Homo sapiens: one gene and its partner. The protein of the gene in region 1 interacts with the protein of each later gene in a pairwise test. Each region holds a gene or a part of one and is shown on either strand. Other genes may lie near its edges.

Region 1 (5,695 bases):
CTCTTTACAAATTTAGGGAGGAAACAACTGTTCAAATGTATAGGGGACAGAAACCTGACATTTAGAGAACAGAAATTTTAATTGCCAAATTAAAGCAGCTAGGCTGCCCCTGGGCTTAACAAAATTCCTATTTTTGAACTAGACCCGAGGTATTTTATCATTATTATTTGATAGGTACCATTAACCTTTGTTTTGTGATTATCGACTTTTGGGGGGAAAGATGAGTAATTAAACACACTCGCCCATTTTCTAAGTGGTTTAGAAGGTTGCAGTCTGCCTCACCATACAAAGCCAGTTTAAATAGGAATATATCACATCATACTTCACATAGCAGTCAACCTCAGAGGAAAGTCATTTATTCAGAAGGCATAGATTTTGCTAGACAGCAGTGATGCATTACAAATATATAATTATTTGCACTAATATTTGAGCAGGTGGAATGGATTAGAACATGGTCAACATCATGCTGCTGATAACATGTATTTTTCTATATTAATATGTACTGTGCAACATGTATTAAAATTGTCAATAATTCATTTTAGCCAAGATACTAATATTTATATTACTGTGTTTAAGAGACAGTATCCAACTGAGCCACTTTTAATTTAAAAGTCTGAAACTGGAATTAAGTTTACTTTCAAAAATCACTTAAATTACTTTATAATCAGTGAAAGGTCAGTAAAATGTAGAATTATAAGTGCCTAGTGACTTAATAGGAGGAAATATGGAGGGTTAAGGAAGGAAGTAGGAACCTGGAATAAGAAAGCTAAGTTTCATTTATAGTTCCAATGAGTGACTTTCTTTGTTTTCACCACTGGGAATCTTAAATGAAGAAAGTGTCGTATCCCTTCCAGTTATCTTTATGTTAATAAACTAAGTGAAGTTTGGATAGAACTAACAAAGGAATTAGTCTCCATTGGTGGACTTCCAGAGTTTTGAGATTAAACTTTGAGAGGTGAGAAGCCTTCCTGATGCCCCTGTAATCTTAAATTGGCAGGTGCCTCTAAGTGAGGCCATCCCTCTTTGCCTGCCTATCATTTTAATCTTTATACTGTAACTGGTTCCTTTCAACTCTGGCCTTTTATTGTAGCACTTTTATCAAGTCTGCAGCTTCCCAGCTACTTGGGAGGCTGAGGTGGGAAGAACACTTGAAGCTAGGAGTTCAAGACCACTCTGGGCAACATAGTGAGTCCCTGTTTTTAGAAAAATAAATAACCTTTAGGTTTTTGCTATAGAAAATATCCAAATAGAGTCTGGACAATGCTGGATGTAAAGAAAACTGTGAAGCTACCTCTAAGCATATTGTTTGTGAATACTGTGTACCATTTAGAGGATAACATGGGGGATTCACATGAAGTTATGTGAAAATATTTTATAAGGAATAATACCTAAGTGCCTCTCTTAAGTTCTCCAGTAGAATGTATTTTCAATTTTTGCCACAAGGGGGAGAAGTTATTTTTATAGTAATATGTACATTTTTTTATTTTAAAAATAGAATTCACACAACTTTACAGCATCTATGAACATTTTGCTATCCCAATTATGTGTGTGTGTGCATGTGTGTAAACAAGATTCTGAAAGTCTTGCATGAGAAAAATTTCAAAGGAAATTAATAACAAAACCAAAACAGTTTTGAAGAACATGTGCACAGTGGACACAGGAATTGAACAAAGTTTACCATGATTAACATTATGTTTTCTTAGTTATATATCACATTGAATTCCTTTATCAACTCTAATAAGAATCTACTGATTAGTGTTCTACATTCTGCTTTTTAAAGAAAAATTTTTGAAACAATCAGACTTAACAGAAGGGTTGTAAATACTGTACAAATAAAATTTTTCCCTTTTGAGAATAAGTCGCTGTCATGATGCTGCACCACCCTCCAATACTTTTGTATTTCCAAGAAGAAAGAATGCTTCAGTATAACTACAATACATGAAAATTGGGAAGTTAACATTGACATATTACTACTATCTAATCCTCAGACACCAATCATTTTACTAGCTGTCCTAATTCCTTTTAAGGATCTCAGTTCAAAATCATGTATTGCTTTAGGTTGTAGTGGCTCTAGTCTCATTCATTCTGACACAGTTCCACAGTCTTTCCTTGACTTTTTTGACTCTGGACATTTTTATAGATTATAGGGTAGTTACTTTGTAAAACACCCCTACATTTGGATTTCTGTTTCCACGTAATTAGATTCTGTTTGTGCTTTTTGGCAGACATACCACGGATGCAACTCTGTGTTATTGTTGCATCCTATCACATAGTACACAATTTCAATTTGCCCCATTTCTGATGATGTTCATTTTTATCACTTTCTTAAGGTACTATTTACCAGGCTTCTCCACTTTAAAACTATTACTTTTCCCTTTGTAAATATTTTGGAGGTAGATATATATTAATAGATACAGACATATATAGGTCCCCCTTATTTATTTATTTGCAGACAGAGTCTCGCTCTGTTGCCCAAGCTGGAGTGCGGTGGCGTGATCTCAGCTCACTGCAACCTCTACCTCCTGGGTTCAAGCGATTCTCCCACCTCAGCCTCCCAAGTAGCTAGGACTACAGGCACATGCCACCATGCCTGGCCAATTTTTCTATTTGTAGTAGAAATGGGGTTTTGCCGTGTTGGTCAGGCTGGTGTCAAACTCCTAGCCTTAAGTGATCTGCCCACCTCAACCTCCCAAAGTCCTGGGATTACAGGTGTGAGCCACCTTAACCAGCCATCCTTTATATATATATATATATATATATATATAATATTAATATATATAAAAATATATGTATATGTGTGGTGTGTGTGTATATATATACATATGTGTGTGTATATACACGTGTGTTTATACACGTGTGTGTACATATACACGCGTGTGTATATATACACACGTGTGTGTGTGTATATATATATACTAATCAGAATTCTCTTGATATCACTATGTATTCATAGTTTTCTGTTCAACTAATTATAATCTGTCATTTTACCAAATCTCAAATTATCCCAAATTTGGTCAGAAGTAGCCTCTTCAGGTTGTCTCCTGTGTCGTTTTGGCATGTTCCCATCATTTTTACAGCAATTTATTCTGGGCACAACAGGATTTTCCAAGGTCATCTTGTACTTGCCTTGCCCCAGCTCTGGAATCAGCCATTCCTCCACCTTTTAGTGAAATTGGCAGTTAGAAATCAAGATTTGTGCATGAGATGTGCTTATTATTATTGAGATGTCTCACCCTACTCTTTCTCAATAGATAATGCTAGGGGGCTTTATGTGTGCATACACACACACACACTCACGCATATTTTAAATATACACCCACACCCATGCGCCCCTCTGCAACATCTTCCTCACCTCACTTGAGCTTCCATACTCCATACTGGGCTTCCCCTCTCTCTGGAGGAGACCATCCTCATCTCACATAGCTCTTGAAGTTTTGGCTTTAGGACCAAATTGAGGGAATAAGAATGGTCATTGCAGAAATCCTGTAAAAATTTTAAAATATTAAATTTAAAAATTACAATTTTATCACGCAGAAACAACTATATTTTTGGTGGAAGTTTTTTTTTTTTTTTTTTAATGTAGTGAGCAAATTAGTAAAGCTGAATTGAGGAGGGGGTAAAGTGTTATGCCCAAGACACAGAACTTACATTTTGAAAGAATTAAATTTGAAATGCATACCGTATGTTTTTCTATTATACAATCTCCTTGCTACTGTAATTGCTATTTAATAAGAGTGCATCAGAGAAACTGTATGAATGGAAACCTGACCATTAAGCACTGAATACCAATAGGATATTTTTACTAATAAAGTTCAAAGGAAAAATGATCATACAATTGTTGTTTTTGTAGGCCATTAAAAATATATATGCTAAGAAGGATAGACTTCATGTGAGAAAGGAGTCTCTGGGCTGGATCTATTATAATAGATGTTACAATAAACTTAATGTGAAATAGGAGTCAAATGGAGGCACAAAGAAGTTAAATAACTTCACCAAAATTATATATCTAAAAAGTAATAGAATTCAAACTTACATCCTTAGGCTTCTATAGCCTATGTTTTAACCACTTTGCTCTGTTACCTCTAAGAAGATTTCATAAAAGAGGTCACATTTCAGCTGAGCTTTAAAAAGGCAAGTAGCATTTCATCAGTGGTGGAGGAGAAGGGGAATTCTAGGCAGAAGTAACTTATACTTGCAGGGTGTGGAGGCATGAGTCACTGGTATATCACTGAATGGAAAAACTGCTGTGTGAGTAGAGCTCAATGTGTGGGGTCCATCAAAAAGGGCAAGTTAAAACGAATATTTGGATTGGGGTTAGCTTATTTAGAGCCTTTAGGCCGGGCGTGGTCGCTCATGCCTATAATCCGAGCACTTTGAGAGGCCAAGGCGGGTGGATCACCTGAGGTCAGGAGTTCGAGACCAGCCTGGCCAACATGGTGAAACCCCGTCTCTACAAAAATACAAATGGCGGGTGCCTGTAATCCCAGCTACTCGGAAGGCTGAGGTGGGAGAATCGCTTGAACCCAGGAGGCGGAGGTTGCAGTGAGCCGAGATTGTGCCATTGCACTCCAGCCTGGGTGACAGAGCAAAACTTAGTCTCAAAAACAAACAAAGTCTTTAAAATGGTATCCCAATTAATTTAGGCTTTATCATAAAACCAGAAAACTATTGAGAATTAAGTAAGTGAATGACATGAACAATTCTGTGTTTTAGAAAAAGATAACTGGTCAGAATGTATGCAGTGGACTAAAGGAGAAGAGAGGGCAGAAACCAGGCTACTGCATTAATCTGGTGAAAGCCTGAACTGGGGGAGTAGCACAGGAATGAAGAGGAGGTGATGGATTCAGGGAATATTTGGAAGATTAAACCAATAGGACTTATTAATTGTTGCTTTATTAGATGTGGGGGGTAAGCAAGAAAAGGAATCAAAGATGATTCCGAGATTCTTAGTTTACATATCTTGGTGAATACCAACACTATGGACTTAAAATATATACCTTAGGAAAAGTAGGTCTAGGAGGAATGCCACTGACTACTGAAAGAACATCTCTTTTGCCAGAACTTGGTTCAGGTCATGCAAAAAATTTAAACTTCATAATCTGCTAGAAGTTGTGGCAGGAGAAAAAAAACTCCATCTATGGCTTTGAAAATAGGAGAATGATTTTTAAATTTTAATGGTATATAATTTGATTTTTATATATAATTGTTTGCATTGTTTTTTACTTAAAGCCAAAAAAAAAAAAAAAAGGAATTAAAAAGCTTTCCAACATTTTAGTGCTCGAATATAATGGGTAGACTCAAATGGAATAACACCGGTTGCCCTTTTTGATGTCAGTCCTTTAGAGAGTGTACACTGGAAGGTCTAAATATGATTTTCTCTGGTTGGATTATTCACATGCTAGGAATGCTTTACATTCTGATTCAAATTCTAAGCCAAAATCTTCCACTTTATCACTTAGGACATCAAGTAGTCTCTTCCAGGAAGATACTGCAGACCTTGAGACCCTGCAGATCTAGAACACAATTATCAGCCATTATATTTTAACTATGATTCCATAGGTTGCATGTTTATCTCAGTAAGGTCAACAAAATGACTCCTTGGCAATATTATGTGGGAAGTGTAATGACACATTATGGATATACCACAAACTCATTTCCTTTGACTTCATGGATTTCAGATAGGGGTTTTGAAAGT
Region 2 (9,796 bases), on another chromosome or scaffold:
GCGGTTCTTCAACTTTTTTGCAACTTAAGACTCCTGTTGGGCCGGGCGCAGTGGCTCACGCCTGGAATCCCAGCACTTTGGGAGGCCGAGGTGGGCTGATCACGAGGCCAGGAGATCAAGACCATCCTGGCTAACACGGTGAAACCCTGTCTCTACTAAAAATACAAAAAATTAGCCGGGTGTGGTGGCAGGTGCCTGTAGTCCCGGCTACTCGGGAGGCTGAGGCAGGAGAATGGCGTGAACCCCGGGAGGTGGAGCTTGCAGTGAGCTGACATCATGCCACTGCACTCCAGCCTGGGCAACAGAGTGAGACACCGTCTCAAAAACAAACAAAAAACTCCTGTTGTCTCATATTTCCTTCTCATATTTCCATATTTCCTTATATGAAATCCTTACCTATGAAATAATACTACTAGTTCATACACTAATTAATAGTCAAGCAGAGATTTTTCTCTCTCTTATTGATGATTATATCGCCAAACCTAGAACCATGCCTAGCACTTAGTAGATGCTCAGTAAATATTGGTTGAATTAATTATGCTTATTTTGGGCCAGACACTGAGCAAAATGCTTTGGATGCATGATTTGAAAACCAACTACATATATTACATATGCATTAACTGATTTTCCTTTTAAAAACTTAAACATAGGCATAATTTCCATCCACAGTTGCTGAGCAAGAGGTGAAGTAATACCAGAAACAACTACATTTTAGATAGTAGCTGCTACCTTATGTGCTGATGTTTTGGAAACGCTGAAAAGTCATAGGCCTCTCAGGGGTTGCACGACTCCAGGCTGGGGTCATTGATTCATTATAGCATTTTCATTTTGCAGACAAGGAAATTTAGTTCCATAGAGGTTTAGGTGGGTTACACAGGGTCACACAGCTTCTCGGTAAAAGAGCCAGGACTCTGACCTGGTGCCTTGACTCAGGGATGAATGAGGAACAATAGCAAATCTAGAACCCCTGGTTGATGGTTTTTTAAGTTTGAGGGGGTATAAGGGGGAAATTAGATCAAAACTTTAATATTTGTATTGTACAGGTCATTAAAGGCCTCGATTCTGATGCCAGCTGAGTGAATCACTCTGTAGCCCACAGTTTAACAATGTAATCTACTCTGCTCAAGTTGATTGTCTTCATTTTGCATGGAGGAGTAGAGATTGCATGTAGCAGATGATGTGAACAGTGCACAGCTTCAAGTATTATTTATTGTTCCCCTCAAGGCTCTGTGTGGTGAATGAGGCACAGATAGAATTAGAGGCCTTGGCTTGATTCCTTGAGGTCACACCCCCTTTCCTTCTGCTAGACAGCCAGCAGTCAGCCACCCACCCTACACCATGATGTGATGAGTTCCGTGACTGCCTAAAGGATGATCTTGAGTTTGTAACTCTGGGCCCTTTGCTTCAGACACATTATGGTTCTAACTTCTATGTATCTAGTGTATTAAGACAATTCTTCTTTATTATCAGAGAGTAGTTCATACTGGAGAAAATAATTTATTATTGCTTTGCTATATATGCATTGCAGAAATATACTTTAAGAAGGCTAGATATGAAAATGTTCCCTGTATTTTTGTCTGTGCAGTAGTATAATCTGTGATTTTAAATTTCTTATTTGCTTTTTTCTTTTACAATGAACACGATTTGTGTGTGTGTGTGTGTGTGTGTGTTTACAGTGAACAAGTACTCAGCTGTCAGCATATAAACATTTACAAATCTTAAATTAATGCTGCCCAGCTTGGAAGGTTTCTGATTTCCTTGCCTTCGGTGAATTTCTCCCTGTGACCTCACAGTCCCTTTAGCACTTGGGTGTTTCCCAGGGCAGTGGAAGTCTGTGGCCTGTGGCAGGATGGTACTCCTGGAACCCACAGGGACCATTATTTAGGACAGGCAGAGCCCCAGGTAGGGGTAAGATGGGTAGGTCTGGCTTTCTTCCAGAGTCAGCTGTGGCATAAATGTCCAGAATGGTCCCCCCTTTTTTTGAGTCTGAAATAGGAACCCCCAGAGTCTAACAGAAGCACATAAAAGTTGTCACGCAGCCAAACCAAAATGGTTCCTGACTTGCCTGACACTTGTATCCATTCACCACTGACAAGGCCAACCTCTGATGGCATAGAAACTTGAGTGGTGACTATTTTTCTCATTTTCTTTTCTTTTCTTTCTAAACAGATGGAGTCTCACTCTGTCGCCCAGGCTGGAGTGCAGTGATGTGATCTCGGCTCACTGCAGCCTCCGCCTCCTGAGTTCCAGTGACTCTCCTGCCTCAGCCTCCTGGGTAGCTGGGATTACAGGCACATGCTACCACGCCTGGCTAATGTTTATATATTTTTTAATAGAGACGGGGTTTCACCATGTTGGTCAGGCTGGTCTCGAACTCCTGACCTCAGGCGATCCGCCCGCCTGGGCCTCCCAAAGTGCTGACGTTACAGGTGTGAGCCACTGCGCCCGGCCTCATTTTCTTTTTATGATAAATAATATCAAGACATGAGGACATCTTAAGAATCGCCAGTCATAGATGGTGCATCTGAGCAGTTTACGTTTTCTTCTTACCTTAACAGGGCAATGAGAGGGGAAGTACGGTGGAAATAAGAAGTGCTAGATGGGAACCTGGACACTGGCTGACTCTCTTGACCACTGTACTGTCATCCATTGTCTGTCAACAAACCTTTGACTGGATGTTGCCGGCGCAGAACATTTCTTTTTCATAGATATAATATTGTGCTTTTATTTTTACTTGAAAATATGAATAAATGTGAAGTTGTTCTTCATTTCCAATTCCCATCCCCCCATCCCCTGCCACATAGGAGGACTTCTGCTGCCCACCTTTGGCCCCAGCCTTTTTATCTGGGGACAGTGAGGACAGCACCCCCATGCCTCGTCCACCTGGCCTCACCTGAGCCTGCAGGACTGTCTCTTGCTCCTTCAGCACTTTCGCCTGAAGTTTCCACTCTGCTGCCTGGTTCAGCAACTATGAGAAGAGAGAGTGTGTGGAAAGATGGTCAGATTTGCCTTTTAGATTACTATTTGGCTGTAATTTGTCTACAAAACTTAGCAACCTGCTCATTAACCTCCTTAAGTAATTTTTTGGAACTTTGAAAAGAATCTAAGAAAGCTTAAAAAACCAGGCCCAGCATGGTGGCTCATGCCTATAATCCCAGCACTTTGGGTGGCTGAGCTGGGAGGATTGCTGGAAGCCAGGAGTTTGAGAACAGCCTGGGCTATATAGGGAGACCTTGTCACTGAAAAAAAAAAAAAACCAAAATTAGTCAGGGGTGGTGGTGCATGCCCGCAGTCCCAGCAACTCGAGAGGCTGAGGCAGGAGGATCACTTGAGCCCAGGAATCCCAGGTTGCAATGAGCTATGATGGCACTGCTGCACTCTAGCCTGGGCAATAGAGTGAGACTCCATTTCTAAAAAAATAAAGAAAAAGAAAGCTAAGAAAATAATTGGTCTAAAAAAGTTGGATTCTCAACTATAAACTAGTGGTTTTAATAAAAAAAATAGTCTCTAGCTCAAGTATGAATCACAAAAAATTCAACTTCCCACCACATTCTGGAACCTTCTCTAGTAATCTTGGCCAACAATCATTCAGCCTCTGCTGGAACCTCTCCAGAACATCCCCACTTGGTGCACTTTTGTTAGCAACTGTTTCTTTTCTTTTTTCTTTTTTTTCTTTGAGACGGAGTTTCTCTTTTGTCGCCCAGGCTGGAATGCAGTGGTGTGACCTCAGCTCCCTGCAACCTCCGCCTCCTGGGTTCAAGCAATTTTCCTGCCTCAGCCTTCTCAGTAACTGGAATTACAGACACCTGCCACCATGCCCAGCTAATTTTTGTATTTTTACTAGAGACGGGGTTTTGCCATGTTGGCCAGGCTGGCCTCCAACTCCTGACCTCGTGATCTGCCCGCCTCGGCCTCCCAAAGTGCTGGGATCATAGGCGTGAGCCGCCGTGCCCGGCCAACAACTGTTTCTTTAGAGTACATCCAGAATCATTCTCCTAGACCACTGTTCTCCACCATAGCACACTTGATACAATAAGAACTATGTATGTCCTTGGTCTTTGTCCCTGATTCCTGACACAGAGCTTCTAACATGCATCAGAATCTCCTACGGAACATATTAAAAATGCAGATGCCTCTCAGATAATATGATTTAGGAAGTACAGAGTGTGACTGAATTCTATGCTTCAAGAAAATACCCAAAATGGTCTGGATATCGGTGGCCTGTGGATTACATTTTGAGAAGTATGGGTTAGAAGTTTGACCTATTGGTCTAAATCCTGGCCCCTGAGAGCTGATGGGTTAAATTGGAAAGGGGATTTGGGCATACAATGACACATTCATATATAAGCTTGTAATTTTAACTTAAGATGAATGCCTATTTATCAATTTTGAGGTAGGGCTGTGGTCTTTGTTTTGGGTATGGATCTTCTGATTAGAGTTCAGAGGGTTTTTTGTTTGGTTTTTATTATTATTTTTAAAAATCACATCCACAGTGTGCCATGTAAGATTTCTAGGTTGTTAGGCTTGTGTGTGTGTGTGTTTAGCGATAGTGCTAGAACCTAAAAATACTTATGAAGCAGCTTGTCTGGATAATTCTCTAGAGTTTTCCACTTCCCCCCAGTCTTTTATAGCTACTCATATCTAGTTTGACAGTTGTTTTTTGCCATTTGCTTGCATTTGGTCTTTCAAAGCACTAAGCATAATTTGCACAAACAGTTTTTTGTTTTCATACTTATATTTCATCAGTTTATGTAACATCCTGTTGATTTACACAAAAGCAAGTGCAATTGGAAAGAAAAGGTTTGTGCAAAGAGCTGATTCTTGGTAAGCTCCACCTTACTAAACTGGGGCAAATTTTGTAGCCCTTCCAGAGAGTGGCTGGGTAGACCTGCAAGTCAGCATGCTGTGGGCATCGGTCAGTGCGTTTTACAGAGAAAACAGTGAACGCAGAGATCAATCTGGCTAGTCAGTCTGGAGGCTATCAATTAAGAAGTTTCTCTTGTATTTGAAGATAAGCTGATTAAAATTTCCCACTTTTAGTTTATCCCTATTGTAAAAAAAAGTCCACGAGGTCTATGTATTATATAATCAGAACCAAAAAAACTAACAATAAAATCATTACTTTTAAAAACTGGAAAGCTTCTTTTTCCTCATCTAAGTTTGTCTTTTTCCCATGACCCAGCCTCTCCATTTGTAAAATGGGTTGCATTTGTTCCTCTATGCCTCCCAGGGTGCAATGAAGATTGATTCTCATAGAAGTGCAACCAAATGGTCCTATGAGAGGACTGGGGCAGCTGTGGAGTAGAAGCCCTACAGTGTCCCCTCTGGCCATCTGAGGGGAGTGGTGGCACTGTGCCTGCTTCTTGTGAGCTGGCTATGCAGCTTTGTTGTGATTGGTGACCCCCAACCTCGAGGGAGGCTGGTGGCTGCCTATTCTGCCTGGGTGACTTGATATCTCATCGCTTCCAAAAGGAGGTGCCCCAGCTGCAAGCCAGGTAGGTGGCTAGCTTCGAAGAAGTGAGATGAGCTCCCTCTCTTTGACTCAAATCTGTTTTGCTGAACCAAAACAGGTGCTAGTTTCTTGCTAAGGCTGGGTCGTCTCAAATCTGCTCTCCAATGTCTCTCATGTGCATCTTTGTCTTGTTCTTTCTCTTTCATGTCTCGTGTTATACAGCAAAGTACCAATATACTATGGGAAGCATATTTTACCCAAGAAGGTAATTACACCAATGGTGGAATTTCTATTCTCTTGGATTGTGAATAATAATTGAATGTTTTATTTCTTGCTTTCAGAGCTAGGTTGTAGATGGATTTCATAAATTAATCTTTTTCTTAAGAGAACATGGACTTCTGATTTGAAATTATCCAATGTCCACCAGATTATGTTGCTCAAAATTTGTCTTTTTGTTGCCATGTTTGAAAATTTATTTTAAAATTACTATTCTAATCAACTGAATTGATTCTGGTCTGATTTTAGGTAAATGAAAATCTCAAGATCAAAATGTGACATGGCCAAATTTGAATAAGTGGTCCATGGACCATGTTTTACCTCTCTCTCACCCCAGCAACAGATACATGCGTCAACTCATACCTCTGAAACACACGTCTGAGTGTGATGCACCGTCACAGAGAGTGTGGGCTTTGGGAACAGACGCACATAAGATCAAAACACATCTTGCTCAGTCAGCAGTGTGCAACCTTAACAAGTTGCGTATCTTCTTGGAGCCTCAATTCTCTCATCTGTAGAATGACCCTACAGCTTTTTGGGGAGTGCTTGGGGTTAATGAGATATCAATAAACACCACCACTCAGTTTCCTCAGCCCAAAACTTAGGAGTCATCCTTGACTTTCTCCTTTTCTCTTTGTCACCAGCTTCAGGTCTGTAGCACTGTCTGTTGATTTCACATTGAAAACAACTTTCATCCATCTCCACCCCTCTTCTCTGCTGCCATATCCCTAAACCAAGTCATCATCATATTTCATCTGATTGCTATAGTAGCCTCCTGTCTTCTTGCTCTCTTGTCCCTCTGCAGTCTATTTTCCATCCAGGAGCCAAATTAATCTTAGAAAATGCAGAGCAGATCATGCCATCACTTCCTTTGCAGAAGCACCCAGTACTTTCCCATTGTATTTAGAATGAAATCCAAATAACTTTTTAAGCCCTACAAAGCTACACAGTTTGGCACCTGCTTACCTCTCCAACTTCATTTTGAACCTCTCCCCCATGCTCTTGCTTCCCTGACCTTTTCCTGTTTCTGGAGCACACCAAATTGGTTCCAGCATTAGGGCGTTTGTTGCTGCTGCAGATGCTGGAGACGATGCTCCAAGTAGCAGCTCCTCATCTGGCAGGGCTTAGCTCAAGCATTCGCCCCTCCAGGAGGCCTTCCTGGTCACTCAATCTAAAGTACGTCCCCTTCTTTGGCCCCTTCTCAGTTTCTCCTTACTTCCTTAGTAGTGGTGATTATTGTCTGAAATGACCCTTCCCTGTTTGCTTGTCTATTGCTTGTCTCTTTCCAGTTAGACTCTAATCTCCATAGTGGGAGATGCCCCTTCTCTGTCTTGTTCACGGCTATGTCCCCGCACCTAACACGGTGCTTAGTAGATAACAGGCACTTGAAAAATATGTGTGGAATAGATGAATGACTATTTTATGTAGAAAGTAGTGTAGACATAGTGCCTCAGACTGGGCTGGCTAATTTAGTTCTCCATAGAAGCTGGGGCTCTTTCTCCATCAGTCTAGTGCTCTTTGACCATTATAAAAACAACTTGCGTCCAGGCGCGATGGTTCACACCTGTAATCCCAGCACTTTGGGAGGCCGAGGAAGGCGGATCACCTGAGGTCAGGAGTTCAAGACCAGCCTGGCCAACATGGTGAAACCCTGTCTCTACTAAAAATACAAAACAAGTAGCCTGTTGTGGTAGTGGGCACCTGTAATCCCAGCTACTTGGGGAGGCAGGAGAATCGCTGGAATCCTGGAGGCTGAGGTTGCAGTGAGCTGAGATCACGCCACTGCATTTCAGCCTGAATGACAGAACGAGACTCTGTCTCAAATAAATAAATAAATAAATAAATACAAAACAACTTGCTCAGAGTGTCTCTGACACTGAGGTAGACCAGATATGCACAACGACTAAAATGATAAATACATATTCCTTTTCTCGTTTGTGTCGCTCCTCCGCTTCCTTCATCATTTCTTGGGCCTGCTCAAGCTTTGCATCCACCAGCTTCTGCTGCAGTTCTCTGTGTTTAAATATTTTGTCCAGATGCTAAGAAAAATAAAGTGTACATAGAAAGCTTGGTTTATTATTGGTGCTTAAAAATGCAAAGTAAAATAATTCACATTAATACACATTCCCCAGGTTTTAAGATTTAAAAGAAGAGAGGGATAAATGCATTGGCATCACTTACAGCTTTATAATAAAGCTGTAAATTGGTGAACCCCTCCCCCTGACTTTGCACCACACACACAAAGCTAGCTATAAAAGGTAGAGGCACCAGAGTTCAGCAGTGTCAATGCCAAAAGATCCATACAATATTTTTCTACGTTTGGTAACTATTAGATATGATGCTATTTATTATGCTAGACAGCACAGACAATGATGTATCAGTATACAATATACAGGGGCTACAGTTGTATCATTTGGTATTTTGGCTCTTTCTGTGAATATAAAACCACTTTTAATTGCAACACTTGTGCAATTTATCATGATGAATTCTCTGCATTCTTGCCTCTGGCGTTGTGAGAAAGCCTTGGGGTGCCAGCATGTGGTCCGAGGTCTGGGAGTGAGGCCTGAGCCCCCCTGAATTCTACTCTGTTGCTCTGGTGGAGATGACAAGGCCAAGGGTCATAGAGAAATTGAGTCGCAAATGTGCAGAGCTCGCCACACCTTTTGACCTCTGGACTAGTTTGGTCAAGAGAAACTTCCAACTCTACCTCAGGATGGATAAATTCCTGGTCACTGGGAGGTCCAATCAGAAACAGGACATGGAATTCTCCCCTTGGGCTTTACTTAGAACCAGTCCCAGGAATATACAACTAGCATAGCAGCCCATTCCCATCTGAGATCTCTCTGAAGAATATGGACATTTTCCTTTCACTCCTTCCTATCTTCTTTAGTCTGAACCTCCATTCTGGAGCGGGATTGATCCTTATGACAAGATAAAATGGTAGCATGGCATTTTGGCTTACTATTAGGAGTTTCTTGATTTACCTAACCACCGCGACCATATGCTGTTGGCTCAGTTTTGTGCTTGATAAAATCTTAGCATGTTACCAACAGAGCCGCTTTGACTATGTTATGTTACATTTTAAAGCAGAGATTTAAAATTTGGGTGGGATAGGGAAAGGAATATGATGTGTCAAAATCCTGAGAGGGTATCTGGAATCTTAAAAATATATTAAATATTAAAATATAATTTGGGTATAACAAAAGACCTTGATCATCCCCCTAATATAACCTATTCAAAGTAAAAGGCTTTTGCCTCTTGTGACTGTGGGTAAGTGGTTTAATCTCTTAGCTTCTGCTTCTCATCTATAAGATATGGATAATATATTATTATCTAATGCATAAGATTGTTGAGACAATTAAATGCCATATGGTATGTAAAGTACAGCACTTAGCACATTGCCTGATACAAACTAACCACTGAATAAATGATATCATTATTATTACAATGATTACATTATTAATACTATTATTGGCCTGGTAGGGTACATAGAATACAGACTCTTTTTTTTTTTTTTTTTTTTGAGACGGAGTCTCACACTGTCGCCTGGGCTGGAGTGCAGTGGCGTGATCTCAGCTCACTGCAACCTCCACCTCCTGGGTTCAAGAGATTCTCCTGCCTCAGCCTCTCGAGTAGCTGGGATTACAGGCGCCCACCACCACGCCTGGCTAATTTTTTTTTGTATTTGTAGTAGAGACGGGATTTCACTATGTTGGCCAGGCTGCTCTCGAACTCCTGACCTCTTAATCCACCTGCCTTGGCCTCCCAAAGTGCTGGGATTACAGGCGTGAGCCACCGCGCCTGGCCAGAATACAGACTCTTAATTTAGATGACATGGCAATTCTTAAGAGGGAGTGCGTGAGTTATTTTTGGCTATAGAGAGAGGATTTTTAAAAGGCTGAGAAATATTATTTTCAAGGAAAACTGTGCCCACAGCCTATCACTTTCTATTTATTGCCTTTACTTTGTAGTGATGCCAGTTTTGAAGAAATCCCATATGACTTTCAGTCAGGTATTTTGTAAGACCATCTGTCTTCATTTTGGCTCGTCAAGGAAATCCAATCCTAA

What was found.
Region 2: the proteins of EXOC5 (region 1) and TXLNB interact in binary tests that used the Homo sapiens proteins (3 or more experiments, as listed by UniProt).

The regions. Positions count from the first base shown.
Region 1 is NC_000014.9:57,198,639-57,204,333, reverse strand, and holds the end of EXOC5 (exocyst complex component 5), read left to right. Parts: 3' UTR 1-3,827; downstream 3,828-5,695. UniProt on the Homo sapiens protein: Component of the exocyst complex involved in the docking of exocytic vesicles with fusion sites on the plasma membrane.
Region 2 is NC_000006.12:139,252,671-139,262,466, forward strand, and holds part of TXLNB (beta-taxilin), read right to left. Parts: intron 7,768-9,796; coding exon 7,648-7,767; intron 2,969-7,647; coding exon 2,894-2,968; intron 1-2,893. UniProt on the Homo sapiens protein: Promotes motor nerve regeneration. May be involved in intracellular vesicle traffic.